Regions from separate parts of the Homo sapiens genome. Here regions 1, 2 and 4 are each linked to region 3. Evidence: fine-mapped expression QTL. A gene starts in region 3. Each other region holds a variant in brackets. All regions are shown on one strand. Distances are from middle to middle. Region 1 has its middle 8.2 kb from the start of TDRG1. Region 2 has its middle 18 kb from the start of LINC00951. Region 3 holds the start of LRFN2 (leucine rich repeat and fibronectin type III domain containing 2). Region 4 overlaps LRFN2 (leucine rich repeat and fibronectin type III domain containing 2).

The links. PIP is the estimated chance that this variant, and not a neighbour inherited with it, causes the effect.
Region 1: its variant is the best candidate, but not a certain one, in a credible set for the expression of LRFN2 in T cells (TOPMed, PIP 0.81).
Region 2: its variant is the best candidate, but not a certain one, in a credible set for the expression of LRFN2 in cerebellar hemisphere (GTEx, PIP 0.86).
Region 4: its variant is the best candidate, but not a certain one, in a credible set for the expression of LRFN2 in whole blood (INTERVAL, PIP 0.52).

Annotation. Positions count from the first base shown.
Region 1 is chr6:40,383,783-40,389,355 of GRCh38, forward strand. No RefSeq gene overlaps it. Among named protein-coding and RNA genes, the nearest start is that of TDRG1, 8.2 kb to the left of the region's middle. The variant G/A (reference allele first, on the strand shown) is at 3,478.
Region 2 is chr6:40,335,437-40,341,009 of GRCh38, forward strand. No RefSeq gene overlaps it. Among named protein-coding and RNA genes, the nearest start is that of LINC00951, 18 kb to the right of the region's middle. The variant G/A (reference allele first, on the strand shown) is at 3,081.
Region 3 is chr6:40,584,617-40,590,189 of GRCh38, forward strand. It overlaps LRFN2 (leucine rich repeat and fibronectin type III domain containing 2), which reads right to left and starts at 2,748. Exons shown (of 3, transcript NM_020737.3): 1 at 2,325-2,748. RefSeq lists silencers at 2,921-3,020, 3,111-3,180.
Region 4 is chr6:40,445,297-40,450,869 of GRCh38, forward strand. All of the region lies in intron 1 of LRFN2 (leucine rich repeat and fibronectin type III domain containing 2), which reads right to left. Among named protein-coding and RNA genes, the nearest start is that of TDRG1, 70 kb to the left of the region's middle. The variant G/T (reference allele first, on the strand shown) is at 2,932.

The DNA of each region.
Region 1 (5,573 bases), 200 kb before region 3:
GGTCAATGGGCTACCATCCCACCACCCCTTGGGAAGAGCTCACCTCCCTTCTCAAGTGGAGAGCCTCTGGCCCACTCTCAGCCCTCTGATCAGAGCCAGGCTCTCACTGAGTGATTTTTCTGGCACCTGGCAGTCTTCCCATCCTAGAAGGGGAACAGTGGGAGGTTTTTGGTGGCAGCATTTGTGTCATTCCAGAATACTGGATGTTAGATTTTGGCTGTTGGGAAAATCCTGGAACAAAGATGAAAGGTGAGAAGGATTAGGGAACCAATGAGTGAGGGGCAGGATGGCCATCCTCAGCCCAGCAGTGAAGTCTACAGTTTTCCAGGTGCTTCCATCTACTATTGGGGCTGTTGTGTATGTCAGAACATTCAGGGCATCAGGGAGTACAGAGGTTACCATGTGCTCTCTGCCACTTCCCTGCCTCCTTTCTTCTCTCAAAATCATAGAGACCAGTGCTGATTTGGCAGGGAATATCGAACCTCTTGAGATTTTTCCAGCTGGAACCCTGGCTCTGTACCTAGTTTTTTAACACTATTTTGACCATAGCAGTCTTTGGGAGCTGCTTGATGTCTGGGCTCTGGATTTCCCATGAAGTCAAGAATGATGGATTCACAAGGGCCCACCGGGAATATGGAGCCATGGTCTGATTAGAGCACAGAGAGCTACTTCCTGCCTTGGGTAAATCCTGAAATTCATCATGCATGATTTTCCTTTTAATAAGATTAAGGAGAGCTTGTATAGATATTGAACAGGGGATCCTGATAGCCATTGAGGGAGGCTGGAGTAGATGACCTCTGATAGCTTTTGCCAGCTTTGAGAGTCTATGAACTTAACATATGTAATATTATCATTAATATGCTATAATTTATGTTACTTTAAATGATGCATATCATTAATAATAATGACTGTTATTACGCTGCCTTTTCCGATCCAATATGTGATCTGTGTAACTACATAGTACTACAGAAGCATACTTACTGAAGTCGATACTTACCATTGATATCTTACCAAAAAAGAAACTGTGGCCAAGAAACAGCCTCTCAACCCAGAACCCCCAAACTAAACAGCCTCTTTCTCTCAGGAGGAACTGAACCTGCCTTGGTTTACTCAGTTCTCTGCAACTACCCTTCTTCCAGACCTGCTTTGTTCCCTCCACCACACCTCCTCTCAAGCTCCTGGGACAGCTAGAGATGCCTCCCTCAACCCCTGCTTGTCCAGGCACAGGATCCCAGTCCTTAATGTGCCCCTGTTAGACCCAAAGCCAGTCACTTTTCCATACCAGGTCTTAATTTCCTCTTCTGTAAAGTGACTCAAGATTTTGAAACTTAAAATCTGGTGAATTCTTCCAAGCACAGGTGCCATCTTATGTTGTATGGCCTTTGGCCAATCCATCTGTCCATCTTTTCTTGGATAGTAGTTTTGCCAGATCTATAAGTTATCTTGAAATTAGTGAAAACAGACCAATCTTTGATAACCAGAGATCTAAAGCATCAGCTTATGGCCCTGTCCTTCAGGGTAATGTGTAAGGCCCTCAAAGCCATGCACAGTGTCTTTCACTTTGACTTTTATCTCTCTCAATACCATGCACAGTGCTAGGCACACAGCAGGTCAGCAAGAGCATGCTGAATGAGCACAAACAGATTTCACCATCTCTCCCACTTTTTCTGCTGGACTCAGTCTTCTGAAAGTCAAGGCACATATGCCAGGATTCAGGCCTTCGACATGAAACCCAGACAGCTCTGCATTTTTACATCCTCTGCAGCTCTGTAAGAAACTTCAGAGCAAATCCATCTCTTGAGTGTTTACCCAACTTTGTGCCTCAATAGCTGTGTGACCTTGGGCAAGTTATTTAACTCTTCTCTACCTGAGCTTCCCCAATAGAGATATTAATAATAATACTTATTTCATTGTGTTGTTTTGATGATAAATTGAGATAATCTATATATAGCTCTTAGACCAGTACACGGCACATAGGAAACTCTCAATAAATGTCAGGTATGATTATCAACTTACTTTTGCAGTTCAATATTCACCTGAAAAATGCCAACCTAATGTTCTCCTAATGAAAGTATAAGAACTTTTCCATAATTAGTCTGGGTAGGTAAGGCAATCACCCCATCTTTGGTAGACAGGAAGGACCATGTCTTCCAAGAGATCCCCACAGGAATGGGTGGGAAGAGCATAACAGGAAACCCAAGATGAAAGCCTTCAGGATTAATAGCTGCAACTGAGGGCTTAAATCCCTTCTTCTTGGCAGCAGTACTCCTCAAATGGTGAGCAAGTTACCTGCTAGTTGCCAGGACATGCCAAGTCCATGACAGAGGGGACAGGTGTAGTGCACTGAGGTTTTTACTTCACAACAAAGTGGAAACAATGTCAGATAGGTCAGCTAACACAGGTCTCCATGGTTTGGAAAATGGGATATCTTGGATGTAGCCTAGGAGATTCAAGGGAAAGAAAACTCATCCTTGCAAAGTATATAAATGTTAGTGCTGCTGTGGGGTATGCCAGGGAGCACCACTGAACACATGTTACAGAGGAGGTGCAGGAGAAGAGGGGGTGTGCTCATCACCAACTAACCAGATGGACAGCCTGGACGGATGGGCTGGGGCTGTGGGAGGTTGGTCAGTGGGCTGACTGGCTGTGGACCAGATGGGTTTGGGGATCCCATGGAGATGGGTGAAATTCCAGCTCCATTCTCTCATCAGTAGGAAACCGAGCATGTGACTGTTGACATCTTGGAAAGGACTAGACCATGAGATCTTCCTTGCTCCAATCCCAGACAGACTCCGGCATGAGATAGTGGAGGAGAATTCTGGCTCCAGGAGCATATTCAGCTGATGGCTAAAGGGACCAGAAGATCAATTATCCCAACAATAATAGGAAAATAACCAGGGAAGAGCCTGTAATCTGGGCCTACTTCCTCAGAATAGGTGAGCAAAAGAAAGATGTCACACATTATACAAAATGAGAACATGGAGAAAGATCACTGAACCTGTCAGAAGTTCCTAAATAGCTATGATAGGGGTCACAGGATAGCCTTAGAGGTAAAAGCTAGCTTCTCTCTTTGGTCTGGGGAAAACATGCCAATTTCTCTCTGATAGAAGCTTCAGGGAAGGGAAACCACGAGCCTTGTAAACATTGACTGACTGTGAGGTACAGAACCTTAATTGAGATGATGGAAGCTACAACCTTTGGTTTAAGGGCTGAAAGCACAAATAGATATTTTTAAACTGTGAAAGTGACAGGGTTCCTTTTAGATATTGGGGCAGTAACCTGGATGGGCCTGATTCTATTATGCAAAGGTAGAAACCTCAGGTATTTACCTGTGAGAAGCCTCCTTGTCACAACAAATTCTTCTTGCTGCCAACTGCATCACATGGAAAGGCTAGGTTTGATAATCTAGGTGGGATCTTTAAAACGGTGTATGCAGGTTTTGAGTGCTGCCTGCCAATAGTCTCTTCTTTTGAATAA[G/A]TGTGTCTATTTTTCTGGCAGCAGTTTGCAGAAATCCCACTGGTTGTAAGAACAGAGAAAGCCCCACCCAGCTTGCTGAAGCCCTGAGACCTTCACTGCAGGCACACTGAGAACAGAAGATACAGAAGTACTCAGGCTGTACTTATGAAAAATCAATACTCACAGACTTTTAAAGAAAAGTTACTTTGCATTTGGGAAGGGGGAATCCTGAGACAGTGACTGTTGCCTAGCCTGGCTGACAATTATATCCCTTAACAAAAAAGTGTTCCTGAGGTCTTTTCGAATTTCAACACTGTAATGGTGAAAAAATAGAAAATTCTCTTGAGGGAAACCTGAGGGATATGTCATTATCGAGAATGTGGGGAAAGGGGTCAAACTGTTTTTCCAGAAAGCTTAATAATCAACTAGGCAAATATTGTATCAGCTATCTCACCTCTGCAAAAGATTGAAGAGCTGGAGGCTTCTGTATATCAGGAAAGAGGATCTGGGTAGGTATCTTACCTGATAGGGACAGGGGTATTAAAATAGAAAGAGGCGAGAAGATGGGTTTTGTCTCTGAAGCAAGCTGTTGTCAGGCTTTTTATCTTAGGGGGAAGAAGTTATAGGCTCCTGGGGCAGAGCAGCCCAGACAAGACTGGAGATGGAAGGCTCATTCAACAAGCAACCTCCTAGAGGTCACCAAGAGGGAAGAAGGGGTGACCACAGGGTGGGCTGGGCAGTGCAGTCTGAATCCTGAGGAATTTTCCTGGCCAGGGGAGGGAACGTGTTTCAAGGCAAGGAGGGCCAGAAAGGCCGGTGTACGGTCAGAAGGAACTGCTTCACCAAGGTGCTCTTGCCTGGAATTAACACTCTGAGGTTTCTCGCAGATCTTAGGCTAGTCAAGGGTTTCCTGATTAGGCTACAAATGTGAATCATTCAGTCAGTATAAAATACAATCTATAACAGGTTGACGGGAAGAAGAAAGGATGGGAAGGCAGTGTGATGTCATGGGAAGAACTAAGGCTTTGCAGCCAGACTTAACTGTGTGACCTTGGGCAAGTTACTTAACCCCTCTGAGCTTCAGTCCCTTCATTTATAATATGGGCATAATACTATCTACCTAAAAAGGTTTTAGTGATGATTCAGTGAGAAACATATTTGAAGCAACAAGCACAGTAACTGGAAGCTGTAGGTACTCAATAATTGTCAGTTTCCTTCCTCTTCTAAAAGCTGTGCTTTCAAGTCAATTGTATGTCTAGAGTCGCACTGTCTGGTACAGTGGCCAGTACTAGCCACATATGGCTCTCAAGTACTTTAAAGAGGGCTAGTCTGAATTGATATGTGTCATACATGTAAAATACTTTAAAGAGGGCTCATCTGAATTGATATATGCCATACATGTAAAATACAAATCAGATTTCTAAAACTTTGTACCAAAAAATACCATAAAATAACTTACTAATAATTTGAGTGATTACATGTTACAATAATATTTTGGATATATTGAGTTAAAATATAAGATTAAAATTAATTCCACCTGTTTCTTTATATTTGATTCAACATGGCTACTGGAAAATTTAAAATTACAATGCGGCTTACATTTTATTCTATTGGACAGTGCTGATCTAGATACTAGAAAAGACAAGGTTGGGAAGCTGTGTTCCAGAAGCATGTTTGTTTCTATACCTTGAGTTTGGGTTTTGGTTTGTTCTCCCATGGTTTCCCAGTAAAAGACCCTTTTGAAAAAAATACCATCCAGGGCTCAACCAAAACGGGTAGAAGATACCTACATGCCCCTAGTAGTCAGGTGTTGTGGTGACCACAGTCCAGGAAAAAGTAGGTAGGGCTGGTATATCAGAGAATGGAGATGTCAGGTAGGACAGTCAGGACAGCTGGGGATGGACTGTTCTTTTCTTAGCCTGAAGCTTCTCTTCAGATTTCTCTACCTTTCTTTACTCTGGGAAGATGATCCCATTTTCTATTATTTCAGAAGATTCCCCCACCTTATACATGAACTTGGCAAGAAGCAGGCTCCCACCAGGCAGTAACAAACACAGGTGCAAGAGAAAATGCCACTTCAAAGCCATCTTTAGAAAACCCCAGAGTTTCCAGAGAAA
Region 2 (5,573 bases), 250 kb before region 3:
TACCAGACCCAGCTGCAGAAATTTCAGTGGCTCCCCCATTTATTTCCCTCATAGCACTTCTCACAACCCAACACTTCCCTTTCCATTTACTTTAAGTGAAATCTCGCCTATCTCTTCCTCAACTAGATTGAAAACTACATGAGGGCAAGAACCATGTCTATGCTGCTCATCTGTTTCCCCAGGGCCTGAGACAGTGCCTGGCACTTCATGACACTCAATAGACATTCGTTGAATGAAGTGAATGAGCATCAGAGGGCACTGGTTTCATGGATCTGGGTGTGGGGGACAAGGCATACCATGCGCAGTGGTCTCTGACTCCCCTGCACACGCACGGTGGTCTCTGACTCCCCTCATGCTCACGGTGGTCTCTGACTCCTCTGCATGTGCACAGTGGTCTCTGACTCCCCCGCACGTGCACGGTGGTCTCTGACTCCGCTGCGCCCCTTTTGAGCATCTTGGGAAAGCAGTAGACCCTCTCCCCGGGAGGAAGTGTACACACATCTGCAATGCGGTATTTTGCAAATAAATTCTAATAGTTAACAGAAACTTCTGCAGAAGCTGAAGTTTTCTTTAGAAGATTGGTTAAGAACTCCTAGTATAGAACTACACAGGGAACATTGAATTTGGAGTCAGTAGACTTGAAGTCTTCCCTGTGGAGAAGTCACTGAACATTTCTGAAGTTGTTTTTTCTTGCCTGTTTCACAAACATCCCATACAATGTTTGTGAAAATGCCTTGTTATCTGCCAGTTGTAATTAATAGCGTCATTGGCCATTTCAAGCCTGTCTATGACAAAATGAGTTTTCTAAAAAGAAACTAAGGAAGGGCATCCTATGGGGAGGCACAGCTTTGTAATCAGTCTTGGCCCTAGCCACAGAGGGGCCATCCCCTGCCAACCCCCCACCCCCCACAACAAAGGCCCTACAATATTCCAACTATCTGCAAGCTTTAAGCCTGGCCTGTTAGAGAAATAATCAGATGACCTGGTCATGATTTGCCTGAAGCATTTGGGTAACAGTAGCAACAGAAGTTGAACAGACTTTAGCTACATTACCAAAGCTATTAAAGTTAAAAACCACTAAACAACCACAGCTTGCTTCCAATCATCCACCCCACAGGCATTCAGAACAAAACCAACAAGAATGTGTTAGAATAAAATGGACACTGAATCTTATTAATGTCTTGAGTTTGGAGCTTTAAAAGCAAACCCCTGGCACTGAGGACATCAACCAGTAGGCATTGTTGAGCAGCACGGGGTCCTTCCAGGAGCATCCTTACACCCCCACCCTAGACACCTCTAGGTCCTAGGCTAATTTTCAGGATCCATGATGAGAAGGCATTTGTGAACACAGATGTGACTTGGGGGATAGTGGGTGGGGAATACCTCTGGCATGGGAGGTCAGTGAGTCAGAGCTGAAGACCCTGGGGCAGGCAGAGCAACCAGAAGGATGGGGGCACCAAGTGGGAGCTAAGATATGGGACCAAGGGAAGCCCTACATGTATGAGCAAGGGCATTGACTGTGAGTCAGTCTTGGGGGCAGAAGTAGCCAACAGCTTCAGAGTCTGCCAACAGCCCTCCTTCTGCATTGGCAGGCTCTACAAACAGAGGGAGGTTCTGCAAACAGCGCAAGTGCATTAAGTAGCTTCAGATCCTCTAACCAGCAGCTTGCTCTATACACAGAGAACGGTGCAGTCTTCAGGGATCTGGTGAGCAGACGGCTACAGGATTTGTACCCCAGGATTAAAGCCAGAAACCAAAAGACCATCTGCCGGTACCCACAGGAGGGAGGATGCAGGTCATTTTCATGTGCAGTGACATCGTAGGTAGGTTCATTTTCTCACAAGACTTGAGGCCTTGACACCTCTGTGTGGCTCTTGCTGCCCTCCCCTGAGAGGATCAGAGAGTGGGCAAGTTCCTGATTCCTTCCTGCAGCACAGCATAACAAGCTTCTCATTGGGAATCGCTGGGTGTCTGGCTGTGGTGGGTGTGGACCATGCATTATTAAGAGAGAGGCTAGGCGCCCTGCAGAAGGCTGAAGCCAGGGGCCATTGCATTGTGTGACATGGCTCAGCCTTTCCAGTTTACAGTCCATTTGGACATCCATTATTTATGGCAGCCGAGTGGCTGTGAACAAGCTGAGACTCAATTAAGGTAACGTCCCCCACACAGAAGCCATGGTTAATGCTGAGAAGTTATTCCAACTCCCACCTTACCATCACAGAGCTGGAGACACAAAGAGACCAAGAAGTGGAATTAGAGAAACGCAGAGATGGAGGCAGAGAACAGAGAAATGAAAAGAGAGGCAGACACCCCCATCCCCCCACCACAACCCCTGCACACAAAGCCAGAGGCTTTTCCCATGGGCCATCTTAGCACTCTCCTGGCTCTGCTGGAGTCCCCTGCACCCTGTCTTAGAGGAGAAGAGCCCTGTGTTCTGGCTCTTGGAGGCCCGAAATTGATTATCCCAGTCTCCACTGTCCCCATCTCTTCCTTCCCTCTTAGTGTCCATCCTGTGCTGTGCTTGAGGACATGGAAGAGATTGGATATATCCTCAGAGGACTGTGGATGGTGACTGCAAGGGGAACTGGGTGCCAGAGACAAGCTGCTGGCAGTTCTAGAGTCCATGGAGCTGGAGGACAAGAGAGGGAGGCGAGAGGTGTGACCAGGCAGGAGCTCTGGGAAAGGCATTGCTGGGGAGGGCTGGAGATGAGGTTTTGGTGTGGAAATGGAGAGGACAGTAGGTGGCAGAGAAGTGGCTGAGAAGGGGAAAGACACCGGCAGAGAGGGAAGAAACTAGGGGAAGAAGGGTCCAGGATGCTGACATGGGATAAATGCAGGGGACGTGGGAGAGAGGGAGGTGAAGGAAGAGAGAGACAGAAGAGGGGAACGGTGGAGGTGGGGGTGGCAAGGGTAGAGAGAGGCAGAGTGTTTCAGAGCTGGCAGAGCACATGAGGACAGGCATGGTGCTTAGGTGGGAGGCCCTTGGGGAGACTGACTGACAGTGGCTGTCTGAGCATCGCGGAGAATGGCAACCGAGTTTCCTGAGTGTCCTGGGCCCTGAGTCCTAGATTCCTGTGTTG[G/A]GGCAGTCTGCTGGCCATCTGCTCTGTTCCCTGCTCAGGAGGCTGGCCAGGTGCAGGAGAACCTGGGAGGGTTGCTCTGCAGGCAGCAGGAGTGGCTGTGTCCACTGCAGGGTCCAGACCTGACTCAGGACGGGAAGAGCAGGCGGCAGACCTGACTGTCTTCTGTCCCTCTCGTGGCTGCATCTCTGCCATGCTCACTTCTCCTCCTTTTCATTTCCCTACTGGAACCCTGCAGGTGGCCTGGGGCAGGGTTCTGCTGAGTTCTTTCTTGTTGATGATAAGTCATGTCCATCTACCACCTCCTGCTCTGCCCACTCTTCCTTCTAATTGAGATACAGTTTCATGATTGTTATTGTTATTATTATTTTCATCATCTTTATTACCGTTACCTTTTAGAAGCTTGTAAGCTCCCTGAGGGCAGGAGTCTTCTCTCATTTACCTCTGTGTGTGCACACATATACAACCACACTAACTCACAAACACCCCTTAGCTATTGACAAAGACCCCATGCTTACTTCAGGGAGTGCTATACCAGTCAGGGTGTTTGCAAATCTACTCTGGCTAGCTTAAGCAGAAAATGAAGATATTAAATCTTTGTGGGAGACAGACTCAGACTTTGGGAGCAGCTGCCCAGTCAGGAATAACGCCCAAACCAACCCCAGCCTCTTCTCCTACAGACCTCAGGGCTGCCATGGTCTGGCACAATTCTCAGAGCTCTCACTGCTGATACAGGGTCCTGGATCCTGGTGCCTCCATCTCTGCTGCCTCCAAAGCCAGATGCCTCTGCCCCTGCCTTTACCAGGAAATAGATACTGCATGGCATTGGCCACTGCTTGCCTGTCTCAGGCTGAAGCCTCTACTGGTGGGTCCCATTGGCAGACTCCATGTCCATGCCCTCGTCACAGCTACAAGAGACACTGGGAAAGATGAGTCTCTGGTTTCTCACTCCAAGAGGCAGGACTCAGAGTGGCCAGAAAGCTTGCTGGTGTTCTCTAGGCAGTGAGGGGCACCTGCCTGTAGGACTGCATTAATGGTGGTGGATGTGGAGGTGTCTATATCACTGGCAGCTGCCATGGAGGGCATGTTGTCTCCCTTGTGGGGAGCTGGGGGCTTCTGTATCCAGGCAGGGTGAAGGCAGGCATTGAGGATGAGGTGGCTGAATCCAGGCACAGCAGAGCCCCGTTGGTAAGCAGGTGAGATATACCCTTGGCATTTTCCCACCTTCAGCCCACCTTTTGCCAGGGAACTGTGCAGAACTGCTGGAGGAGGGCTAACGGAGCTGGGGGGACAGCAGGAACGCCCTTTCCAGGTGTGTCTGCTGATTAAAAAGGGATGCAAAGTGAGGAAATGAAATTGGATCTGAAGGCGTGAGGCAGGGCAGCCTGGCTGTGCAGATGTTCCGACCCACCTGCTCACCGAGGGTATTTCTGTTCACCCGCTGCCTGTGTTCCCATCCTGCCAAGGCCATAAAGACAAAAACACTTCCTAGAAGTGAAAAATACTCGTGCTGAAATTTCAAGCACCTGTTGGGGAATGGGGGTTTGAGGGTAAGGCGACCCCCTTGCCTTGTCCTGGGCTGGGCTGTCAGTCATTTGTTCCACCCCAGCATCACAGAGGTGGGGCCCACCTCCCCCGCACCACCACCCACAGCCCCCTACTCTAGACCCTTCCCCACACATGCCCAGGCAACCTCCTGGTGAGAATTGCACCCGAATTCAATTATCTTTGTGGCTTTTGGCTAAAGGGATCCACACACAGCAGGCAGGTTCACGGGCCTAATCGGGCCTGATGCATATCTAACCAGACAGGGAGTGTGTGTCTGGATTTGTCGCCTGACAGGTACAGATGTCGGAGGCTCTCATCCATGAGATGGAATCACTCTTAGAGATTGAGAGGCTTAGGCGGTGTCAGTCAGAGACGGGCCACACATCTCAAGCCGGGACAGAGGCTGCCAGCAAAGCCCTCTTCAACCCACTGGAGTCAGCAGGCCCAGTGCTTCATAAACCAAGTTATGAGAGCAGAGCTGAGAATTTCTAAGGAGCCTCCTTTTTAAAGCCTTTCACTTCACCTGCTCTCCAACAGCTGGTGAGTCTTTCCAGGGCAGCACAGGTAAAGGGATGAACAAAGTCTCAGAAATAGAGAACCTGGGTTGAAACCACCTCCACTATCTACTAGCTGAAGGGCCTTGGGCAAGTCACTTACCTGCTCCTGGTCCCACGTAATGCTTGTCATCTGTGGGCTTGCTGTAAGCAGTGAATGGGATTCCCTAGGCAGCCGCTCCGTCTCTCATGTTCCTGTAGCACTTCATTCCTCCCTATTAGGTAGAAACTGTCTAGCACTGGACATATTATTTAACCTCTCTGAGACTCATTTAGTGCCTGTCTACAATGCAGAACTGTGACAGTGCCTACTTGGTCGGGCTGTCAAGAGGGTTAATACCTGCAAAGCCTCCTGACAGCCTGGTGCATGGCGAGCCCTCAGGAAATGGTAGTG
Region 3 (5,573 bases):
ATATCTACCTTAGGAAAGGGGAGTTTCTGAAAACAATTAATTCCAATTTCACTTCTCCACTGTCCCTGGGTAGACAGACCCCACGCCAGGAGCTTATAAGCCTCTATACATCCACCCTGCAAAAAAGGAGAGCAGAACCTGCTCAACCCCACAGGCTGAAGAGGCTTGGCAAACTGGCACTTGGAGGCCAGAATCCCTGTTTTTTTTTTTTCCTTTGGAGCTGAAGCAAAGATAAGAAGAGCAATTCCTCCTTCAGTCAAAGAAGGACTCAGTTGGCCAGAAGGCTGCCTGGTTTCCCCGGTGGCCCCACCCACTCTGACTGCATTTTCTTCCCATCTATCTTGCTTCTCCTCCTCAGCCTCACCTCCTGGAAGCTCCCAGCTCACCCTCTCTCAGGCCAGACTCCCCAGCTTCTCACGTTTCTGGGCCTGAGCAAAGAACTGGCACTTCACAGAAGAAGGAGCCCTGAACCCCAGCCTCCAGCCCACAGCAGGCAGGCACCCAGTTCTTCTAGACAGGAGATGGAACTGGGAGCCAACCTTCCAGAGGCTGAAACAGAAATGCCAAGTTTGCTGTTTGCATCCCCAGGATGAGGGCAGGAAGATAAATAATTACATTCCTGGTCAGGAATTAGACCAGAAACTCTAAATTGAGGGCTGGGCAGGGGGCCTGAGCAGAAGCATGTGAGGAGGCCAGAGGGAGATGCAACTCTGCACTCCCAGCCAGAGTCAGAAGGGAAAGATGACATTCCAGCATCAGCAGAAGGGCCCAGGCAGCTGGCATGGTCGGCGGAGGATGACGGCTCCAAGTGCAGGCCTTTTGGAGCTTCTGAATCCTCCCTACAGGACTCTGACCCCCTTCAGCCTCTGATGTACCCCACAAGGAAATGACACTACCCTCAGGGCTCTGCTGTGTGTGGCTATATAAAGCTCCTGCCAGAGGGCAGCGACCAGACCAGGGCACAACCCCAAGACCTAGTTCCCTTGCTCCCCACCTTGAGTTCCAAATCGGCCCCCACACAAGAATAACAGCCCACATAGAACCTCTAGCCCTGGCCCCTGGGAACTTCACAGCCCAGGGAATGGCAGTTTCCTCCCTAGCTTTGCTCCTCCCCAGCAGCAGGGGGTCAAATTCCTGAAGCTTCCCCCTCCCCCAGTACTAGAAGGCCAATCAGGCCATGGAGGCCACAGCTGCCACCTCCCTGAAACATACACATGCGTACACACACACACGCGTACACACACACACACACACACACACTCCATTGTGGCCAGGGGAGGGGGTCATCATCTATAGCCATGCCTGTAACTCCAACTCAAGAGTGCAGGCTCTGACATGTTCCCTGTCCCTGCAGGTGTCTGTCCGTCTGCAGCTGTCTGCTGTCGCCGGGTGCATTTGGCAACAGTCTGGCTCAGTCCCTCTGCGGTCTCCACTCAGGCTCTCTTCTCCCTCCTGCTCTGGTTTTCAGAGGCTCTATCTCCCTAGAACTCTCTGTCTCTGTCCTTTGTACCGGGCTGATGGGAAGACGAGTAGGACACCTCCCTCAGAAGGTCTGTGCAAAGTAAGGCACTGTCCACCTCGGAACGGTCTACTGCTCTCCCTCCTCCCTGCCCAGGCCAACCTTAGAACCAGGGCAGGGCTGGGTGGGAGACAGAGACCTAGGAACCCAGGCATGGCTAATGCCACTTTCCATATTGCTTCATCATGCCATTCTGATGCCCCAAGCTGCACACACACACAATCCCCCTGATCTGCTTTCTGCCTGAGGCCAGCATAGGGTCCCTGAACCTGCCCTACCTGCCCCCACAAACTGCAACCATGCCTTCCTTCCTCCCATCCGCTCTGCATCAACCCTTCCGCACTTGGCTTTACCCCACCCCACCCAGTCCACAGAGCTCAGGGAGTCCCCGGCGCCCCCACCTAGCCCCCAGCAATGGCTCTAGCCAGGCCTTGCATGTGCGGAGATGCAACAGAGTGGTCTGGCGGCAAAGTTCTCCTGCTGTTTTCAACGGTTCCATCCACCCGTGGCTCCCCGTCTCTCCATCCGGCTCTCCAGTCTCACATGGACCCGGCTCTCCCCGCTCCCCGCCAGAGTTTCACCCCCACTGTAGGAAATAAAGACTAAAGAAAGGAAAGGAAATCTCTCGCGATAAGGATGGGCGAAAAGAGAAGGGGGTGTCCGCATGAGCACCTAGGATGCGGGGAGTCTTCAAGAGAAAAAGAAAGGGATGCAAAGTTCCCGGTTCCCTCGGGTGCGTTCAGCCCCGCGCCGAGCTCCCGCGGACACCCGGGATCGCAAAGACGCAGCGCCGGCGACCACTCACCTGGGCGAGGCAGCATCTACCCCCGGCTGGGTGGCACCGAGGCCGGCTCCGCGGGGCGCCCGGGCTCCCCGGCTCGGCCACGCATCCTTCCCCGCCCGAGACAGACTCGAGCTAAACCCTCCGGCGGCTCCGGCGAATGCAGGCAGATGGTGGCCTCGGACGTCCACGCGGGGAAAGCCCTGAGCCGCTTATTCAGTTATATCCATGGCATTTAGCAAGAAGAAGGGGGGAAAAGCACAACTTGTTCTCTTCTCTTCCAGATTAAAGAAAAATAATAATAATAATCCCTCCCTAGGAGGATGCCGGTAGGATTTTCCGGATCGAAGAACCCCAGGCATTCCCAGGAACCTCGGGCATCTTGGAATGTGGGGTGTCTTCAAGTTCAGACGAGCCTGCCGGGTTGTGTATGTGTGAGTGTATGTGTGTCTCAGCGAGAGGGAGCCAGGCACTCACACCCACACGCACACACAAACACACTCCCCCGTACTCCCCGCATGCACACTGCCCCCCACGCGCGCGCGCATACGCGCGTACCCGGTTTCTCTCTCCGCTCCACACACACACACACACACACACGCACACACACACACACACGGATCACACGCTCCAATCTGGGAGGGAGTCGGGCGGGCTGCGGAGACAGCGCAGGGCCAGCAGTGGAGAAAACCCAGCGGCCAGAGGCGCCCAGGAACCCGGCGGCCGTGCGCACCGTCCCCGCCGAGCTCTCCGGCGCGGCAGCCCCCAGTGGCGAACCGCGGAGCTGCAGGAGCCGAAGGCAGCCTCTGCGCCCGCTGCCCTGCCCGCTGCCGAGCGCACCCGCTTCCGAGACGACCAACACCGCCGCGGAAACCAGAGGGATTCACGGTCCTGGCAGGGGTGGCGCGGGGACGCACGGTGGGGCGGGAGTGGGCTGGGGCCGCAGTCGCGGAGGGAGGTGGGCAGGCCGCGAGCCCCGGAACCGGGAGGGCGGTCTCCGCGGTCCAGCGGCACGGGCAGCCCCTGCGGAAGGCGAGCCGGGCGGCCAGGGCTGCACCTCTGCAGCTGGCGACGGCGCTGCCACCTCACGTGCCTAGCGCGCCCTGCAGCCGTCAGCCCGCCGCCTGCTGGAGGAAAACCCGACCGCGCCGGCCCTAGGCTGGGAGTGGGGGCTGGGGCGATCGCGCCCACCCAGTCCTGGGGCCCAGTTCAGATTCTCGAATCCTGGTAAGGGACCTATGAATAACGAGCGCCCCGTGCACGCACACACACGCACTTTGACTTTTCATGATTATTACAAGAATCAGTGAAGGGTGCAGTGGCGCCAAGTGTTTGCACAGCATCTTTACAACTCTTCACTTGTTTGATCTTCTCAGCAACCCTCATTTGATGTATAAGGAAACTGAGGCCCAAAAGAGTAAAGTGACTTGTCCAAGGCATGTGGTAGGTAGCGGAGACCCTACTCAAAGCAGACTGTGAGCTCACAGTCAGAACACCCAGGTCTGGCCAAGGTCTCGTCTTTGGTTATCCTCTCGGTTCACTATAAACAACTAGTTACCAGAAAGGTAGGACCGTCCTCTGCCTTACTGGACTCCCCAAGAGGCATTTCCTTCCTTCTAAAGGAAATGAAATTTTGAGATTCCTGTTGGTACTCCAGCTGGTAAATCCAGGGGCAGGAAGAATGTCAATGTTGCAGTCCTTCTCTTCTCTCCTGGTGGCTAACACATCCCGTGCACCTGTCCCGGTTACCCACAGGGAGGCACATGTTGCATGTGGATGTGTCTCTGCAGCCCAGGATTGGCTCGGCTGGATACATCTGTAACATACGACCCTGTGTCCTCTCTACACACATGCATAACTGCAGAAGCCGAGGCAGCTGGTCCTCATGTGTGCACCCTCCACATGTGCACCCCGGGAAACTGCCAAACTGGCATGCTGCATATCCTTGAAGACAAGCCTCTCCCTGCAGGAATTCTGGAAAGCCTGGTGGGGGAGGGGCATGGCCAAGATGAAACTCAAGGTATATGGGGTGGGCCTTGGAGAGAAGGGATCTAACTCAGGAGCAGGGAGTGAGGGATAGAGGTAGGGAAGAGTCATGAGAAGGAAAGTAATGAGGAAGGAAGAGGTGAGTAAAAGGAGGTGTGGAGTAGAAACTGGGGAGGGCAAGTAGGGAAGAGGAAGGGGAAGGGAAGAAGGAGGGGAGAACAGCAGGGAAACTGCCTTACTCTTTGCTTACCTGAGGGCTTGCCTACTATTGGCGGGAGCTCCCAGGAAGAAAGGCTTAGGAAGAACCACAGCCTGGGCTCAAGCCTTTGAATTCTCCCAAGGGTTGGGGGCAGTGGGCTAGGTTATCTCCCCTAACCCTCAGTCACCCATGAGACAACCAGAACGGAGTGGCAGGGATAGGACCAAGCTGGCACCAGAGTAGAAATGGAGCTGCTTTTAGAAACCAGAAAAGCATTAGAATGATGTGAATGAGGGATATAGGAAGGATGGATCAATCTCTGCTCTAGAGTGAACCCAATACTCCATCAAGAAGTTTTCTCAAGTCAGAAACATGGATATTCCATGAAGAGCCAAGACCTGGGTCATTGGTAATTCTGAGAATTACTGGTTTATTTTTCTAATTACATTTGCCCCAACATAACCTGAGTACTGTGCTGGGGCACAGGTGGCCTGGATGCTCACCATGGCTTTGTATTAACAAGCAATGTGACAAGTCCCTTTTCCTCAAAGGGTTTGGACTGTGCATTTGCTAAGAGCCTTTCCAGCTCTGGGAACCCCCAAGCAACCTTGACAGATGGAGCAGGATGGGGACCACATACATCTTGAGAGGCCAAGAGAACACCAATCTACAGTCACCGTTTACCATGAAAATCCCCAGAAGATAATCCACACTTGGATCATGAAAAGGTGAAAGATGGTGGATTTCTTGGCTCCTCGAACAAGCCCACAAGGACTGAGTTAGGGTCACTAACGTGGCACCTGGCTTCCTGTACTGGTTACTTACCTCAGAGTTGAGCCAGGGCTTCCCAAAGAGGTGATCCCATCATTCCAGAAGGGGTTGGGGAGTGAAAGCCATTTTAATAATGGGCATTTTGATTCTTCTTCGTGTTCATTCTGCTAAATAACCCTGTGATGAACATCTTTGTACCTAAGTCTTTCCCCACATTCTTGTTTTTGTGCTTAAGCTAGACTCCCTGAAGTAGAATCACTGGGCTGGAGGGTATGAACATTTTTAAGGTTCTTTGTACATACTTTTTTTTGTTTCAG
Region 4 (5,573 bases), 140 kb before region 3:
GGAAGCTTCCACACCTTGTTCAATAACTTATGACAAAAGGCAGAGTTGGAATCGCAGTCCAGGTATGTCCTACCCCCTCCCAGATGACATCATTCTCAAGGCGGAGAGAAAAGGAAGTGGTAAAGAGTTATGGGAATTCTATGGAAGACTCCCCCACCAACTAGGGCAAGGGAACTTTTCTTGGAGGAGGTGGTGCTGATTGTGGCCTTGAATGATAGGTGGTAGGATTTCAGCAGCTTGGGCCAGTTGTCTTAATGAGGACATTCTAGAAGGAAGAACAAAGATTCAAGGTATTGTGATTGGAGAGAGGTGGATCTACCAAAGGTGGACAATTACAGAAACCTTTTAAAGGAAGCATCCTCAAGAGGCCCCGGCTTGAGAAGTGCTGGCTTAAGAAATTGACTTACTGGCAAGGTGGCTAGTGGTAGGCACATGGCCTCTGGGGTCCAGCCACTTTGTAGGACTAAGGAATCCCCTCAGCTTCAATCCTGGCCTGCCTCTTTCTGGCCCTGTGGTCTTGGGCAAGTTGCTTGACCTCTCAATACCTCAGTTTCCTCACCTGTAAAATCGAATAATCTTATAAAGTTGTGAGGATTAATTGAGTCAATCCTGTAAAACACTTAACCAGGGCCAGGCACAAAATAAAATCTCAAAACAGTGTTTCCCATTACAGTTCTTATTAAGTGCACTCTCTTTAAGTTGTGACTGGCTGTTCTCAAGGAGAAGCTTTGGTAAAGAATGAATTTTAGATTGCCACCAAAATAAAAAGCTGAAATGTAAAACATGTTCATAGAACTCAGCACCTCCTGGGGACCTCACCATTAGTTTAGGAAATTCTGCTGTTGTCGGTTAGATGGGCAGGAATAGAGCCATGACTAGGGAGCAATAATCAAATCTTCCTCCAGCCTGGCCACTCCTGAATCCAAGGCTGGGGTGTAGTCTGGGTGTAGGAGGCCTCCTTGCCCAGGAGAAAGGCAACCAGCAGTGGAGAGATTTTTTAATTTTTAATTTTAATGAAGGAAGAAGCATTCCAAGGCAAAAGTGGCTAGGGCCCACGAAGGCCATAATGCAGCCCTGCTCACCTGTTATGGGGGCTACAGAGGAGAAAGGATCTCCCCCTTCCCTGCTGCCCCTACATTCCTCGTGTCTGATCATTACAGGCTTTTTAGTAATTCTCTCCCCAGCAGCTTCCTCACTGCCAATGGCCTTGCTGATACAGCTGCTGTGTGCTGTGTTCATCAGGCTTCTGTCACTAGGGCTAAGTGTATTTATTGTGCTACATCATTAGCGGCGATATGTATACATTGAACACCTGCTGTGCTGAGCTCCATACAGAATCTGAGTAAATAATTTTCTTTCTGTCCTCTGGGAGGCTGCAATCTATTAAAGGCAAGACAGTCTGCACAGAGGAAGACACACAATTATCTTCTTCCAGTAGGAGACAGAGAGGTGCAGGCAGGGAATAAATGATAAAAGCAAAATCTGCCTTGTTTCTCCTTCAAACTAGACCTCCCAGAGAAGTGGGAGCTGTGTCCCCCCTCAGACTGGGGCTCCCTGATGATGGGGCTGTGTCTCCCTCAGACTGGGGCTTCCTGAGGATGGAGCTGTGTCTCCCTCAGACTGGGGCTTCCTGAGGATGGAGCTGTGTCTCCCTCAGACTGGGGTTCCCTGAGGACGAGGCTGCATCTCCCCTCAGACTGGAGCTCCCTGGGATTGGGGCTGCGTCTCCCCTCAGACTGGGGCTCCCTGAGGATGGGGCTGTGCCTCCCTCAGACTGGGCTCCCTGAGTCAGGGCTGTGTCTCCCCCAGACTGGGGTCCCTGAGTCAGGGCTGTGTCTCCGCTCAGACTGGGGCTTCCTTATAACAAGGCCACACATTCCCTCATTATCCTATTAGTTTTCCAAGAAAAGTATTTCTACTTTTTCTATCAAAGCAAAAGACCCTACCAACCTTCTCATTAACCTCAAGCAAAGCATGTCCCCACCGTATGCCTCAGTTTTCTTGTGTAAATGAGGACATTAATTACCTTTAAAGTTGTGGTAATGTTACGACATTAACCTCAAACTCAGAATTCTGCCTCACTCTCAGGCTCTCTTCTTTCCCCAAATTTGCCTACCTTTAACATCACTAGAGGCAGAGCTGTCACCATCCCATGATGTCTTCTTCCACCTGAACTAAATGGGGACCTGAGTTTAGAATCTTTAACAAGTTTGTTCCCAAACCTTTATTTTTCTGTGAACTTCTCAGAAGGTGAAAGACTTGACTTTGCTCAAATAATTCTCACTCTTCATTACTTCAAACGTAGATGATATCATCATCATCATCATCATGAAATGGTGAACACTTGAGTGCTGATTCTATGGTAAGCATTTTCTGCCTTAACACATTTCATCTTCCCACCCACCCTATGAAGTGGGTGTGGTAGTTATTTCTATTTACAGATAAGGTGAGGCCCATCAAGGTGTTTAGATGATGTACTCTGGGTGGCCTACCTAGTAGGTGGTCCACCTAGTAGGTGGCCCCTCATCCATCTGGGCTCTCAAAGAGCTCTGTAGATATTGCCAGAGTCTAGGGACCCTAGGACTGACCCCTGTTCTCCTCCATTAGAATCAACCAACAAAATGTACACAAGGCTCTATCCAAACAGTAATCACTTTATAATCAAGCACTGATATTAACTGATAATTAACCAAGAAAGAATGGGGAGCATGCCCTGGAGTTTCAGGGAGGGAGGCCCAGCCTTTAGGTGTCAAAAGCCACGAGTGCTCCTAGTGTTAGGGCAATAGCCTGTGAGAGACCGGGAGCGTGGGTCCTCCTGAGCAGTGTCCTTCACACCCGTGAATCCTTCCTCCACTCACACCCATCACTTGGCCTTGGGATTTGCGGGCTTGCTGAGTTGGGGAAGCAGCTCATACCTTCCCACTATGAAGA[G/T]GAGAAGCAGAGCCAAGTGCTTGGCTGAGGTAGTGAGTTTTGTGCTTCTCCTGCAACCCCCTGGGTTTGGTGCACCCATCAAGCACGTGCTCCCCTCCAGACCCCACCTCTGGCAGCCTCAGATAGGGTGAAAAAATAATTATTTTGAGAATCAGGAGATCAGGGCGAGCCTGAGGCCAAAAGAGACTCACTTCTGCCAAAGTAATAATGATACCCCATGAATATATACAAATTGTAAATTTACAATAAAAGATAAAAATGAAAAAAATGAAATCTTTGCATCCTCCGTCAGCCCTAATCTTTTGGATTCTTATCTTGCTGCAATACTCAAAAAGATCAAATACATAGATGGTTAAAATATTAATGGCTGATTATCTTAAATGAGAATTCTACACTGCCTTTACCAAAGGACCGAATCGCTAATGAATTTTTAGGCACTATCTCCTGACTTGTGGTGTTGGTGTCTGGAGAGATTACAAGGCTGGGAGATCCTAATCGTTTCTCTTAATTCACACCATATACATGTTTCCTGTCCTTTGGCAGAAGGCAGAACCAAGGAAGCTGAACACTTCCGGCTTCAATTCCCTTGCAGAGCTGGAGATTGAATGGAGGAGGCTGGCTGGAGGCTCTGTGGGCTGGGAAAGGGGTCCTGGTCCTGTTTTGCCAAAGGAAGGAAGCAAGCACAGTTTCCTTCTTTAGTTGGGAGGGGTAACAGGGAAGTCAGGCTAGGGGCTCAGAAGTATAACCAAAGCAACCAACTCTTCCTTGACACGCAGCATTGTGCTCTTCCTCTGTGGGGTGACTATCACAGCCTCTTGGTTGTTCCCTAATACACATTTTCCTGTTCTTCCCTAGTAAGAATCCCCAATTGCACATGGTGAATATAGTTAATAATAGAGTATTGTACATTTCAAAATTGCTAAGAGAGCGCACTTCAAATGTTCTCACTACAAAAGTGTTAAGTATTTGAGGTGATGGATATGTTAACTAACTTGACATAATTATTCCACAATGTGTTTATAAATCAAAACATTCCTTTGTACCCCATAAATATATACAAATTGTAAATTTACAACAAAATATACAAATTTTAAAAAGAGAAAAGAAGTCCCAAGTGTTATTTGGCCAAAAGGCCACCCCCAAATAAAGACTGTATTTCCCAGCCTCCCTTGTACTCAGTTGCAGCCATGTGACTTAGTTCTAACCAAAGGGTTGTGAGTAAATGTCTACTATGTGATGACCCACAAGTATCCTTAGAGAAAGGTCATGCCTGTCTTTGCTCCTTCCTGCTTTCTACTGATTGGAATGTAGATGGGGTGGGTAGAGCTTGAGCAGTCATCTTGGACCATAAGGTGGTGGCCAGGTTTGAGAATGCAAAACAATAAGATGGAAGGAACCTGGGTATCTGGTGATCATGGCACCACCATATAGCCCTGAACTTCCCACAGTTTGTCTCTTTTTTCATTACAACTTTCTGTTTTAAATAGTTTAAGACTCATACGAACTTGTAAAAAATAGTATAAAGAGTTTCTATATACTCCTCACCCCATTTTCCCCATTGGTAACATATTACCTAGCCATAGCACAATTGACATTGGTACAATGCTGTTCACCCAAATATAGACCTTATCTCTGTATTTGTTACATGATAGAGAAAAAAAAATTCTATCTCATTTGGGCTACTTTGCATTGTTTTGGTTTTATTTTTTATCACTCACAATGAAATCTTTTTCTAACTGATATGAATTTCCAAAAAATATAAGGTGGCATCCCAGCCCCCTCCCTGAGAAATGGATACAGTAGGCAGAAGGAGCTGACACAGACGCAGGGAACTAGAAAAACTTCAGGACAATGTAGAAAAGTCTTTTGAAACAGAGAGAGACACAGGACTACGAAGTCATCTTTCCTTTCGATGGTGCTGAGAGAACTGTCCTCACCGGCCTCCTTACCCCACCACTGACTTTGCATCCTTGCCTCACCTTCCCTACCTCGGAGCTCACCTTTCTCATGCTAGAACCACCTGCATATCCACATCTTACCTACCCAGAGCTCTGCATCTCCCTGCCAATTCTTGGAGACTTAAGATTCTCATTAGTATTGCCAGCTCCTGGCCCATCAGAGTCACATGTTGGGAGAGAGGAGTGAAGGCAGGTGACATTTGTTGGTATTTTCAACTCGGGTGAAAACAAACAAATTGCACTGAAGTTAAATGTCAAAGGCCCCTGAGCACATTGCAAGGGAGAGAGGGAGGGAGGAGCACCTCCTCACAGGGGCAGCCTTTTCCTTGTCCCTGGGTGGGTGTGCATGGGGGATGCAACCGTGCTGGAAGCCTGCAAGGAGGGCAAAGTGTGCAGTGTTTGTCCAGTGTCCAGCTTCATCCCGTCATGGGCAGACTGGTTATACACGGGCAACACCAAGTGAGGACACTCATTTATTCTCCATCTATTTGCTGACAGAACATTTACTGAGAACTTACTACATACACAGTTGCTGTAATAGGTGCTGAGGGAAGCCAACTATGAAACAAATTTTCACTGGCCTCCACCTCCAGGGAATAGATCTCCTTTAGAGAGGACATAAGATGTATAAATATATAATGTAAGAAGCAAATGAGTATTATCTCGAGGAGTACAAAGTTCTTT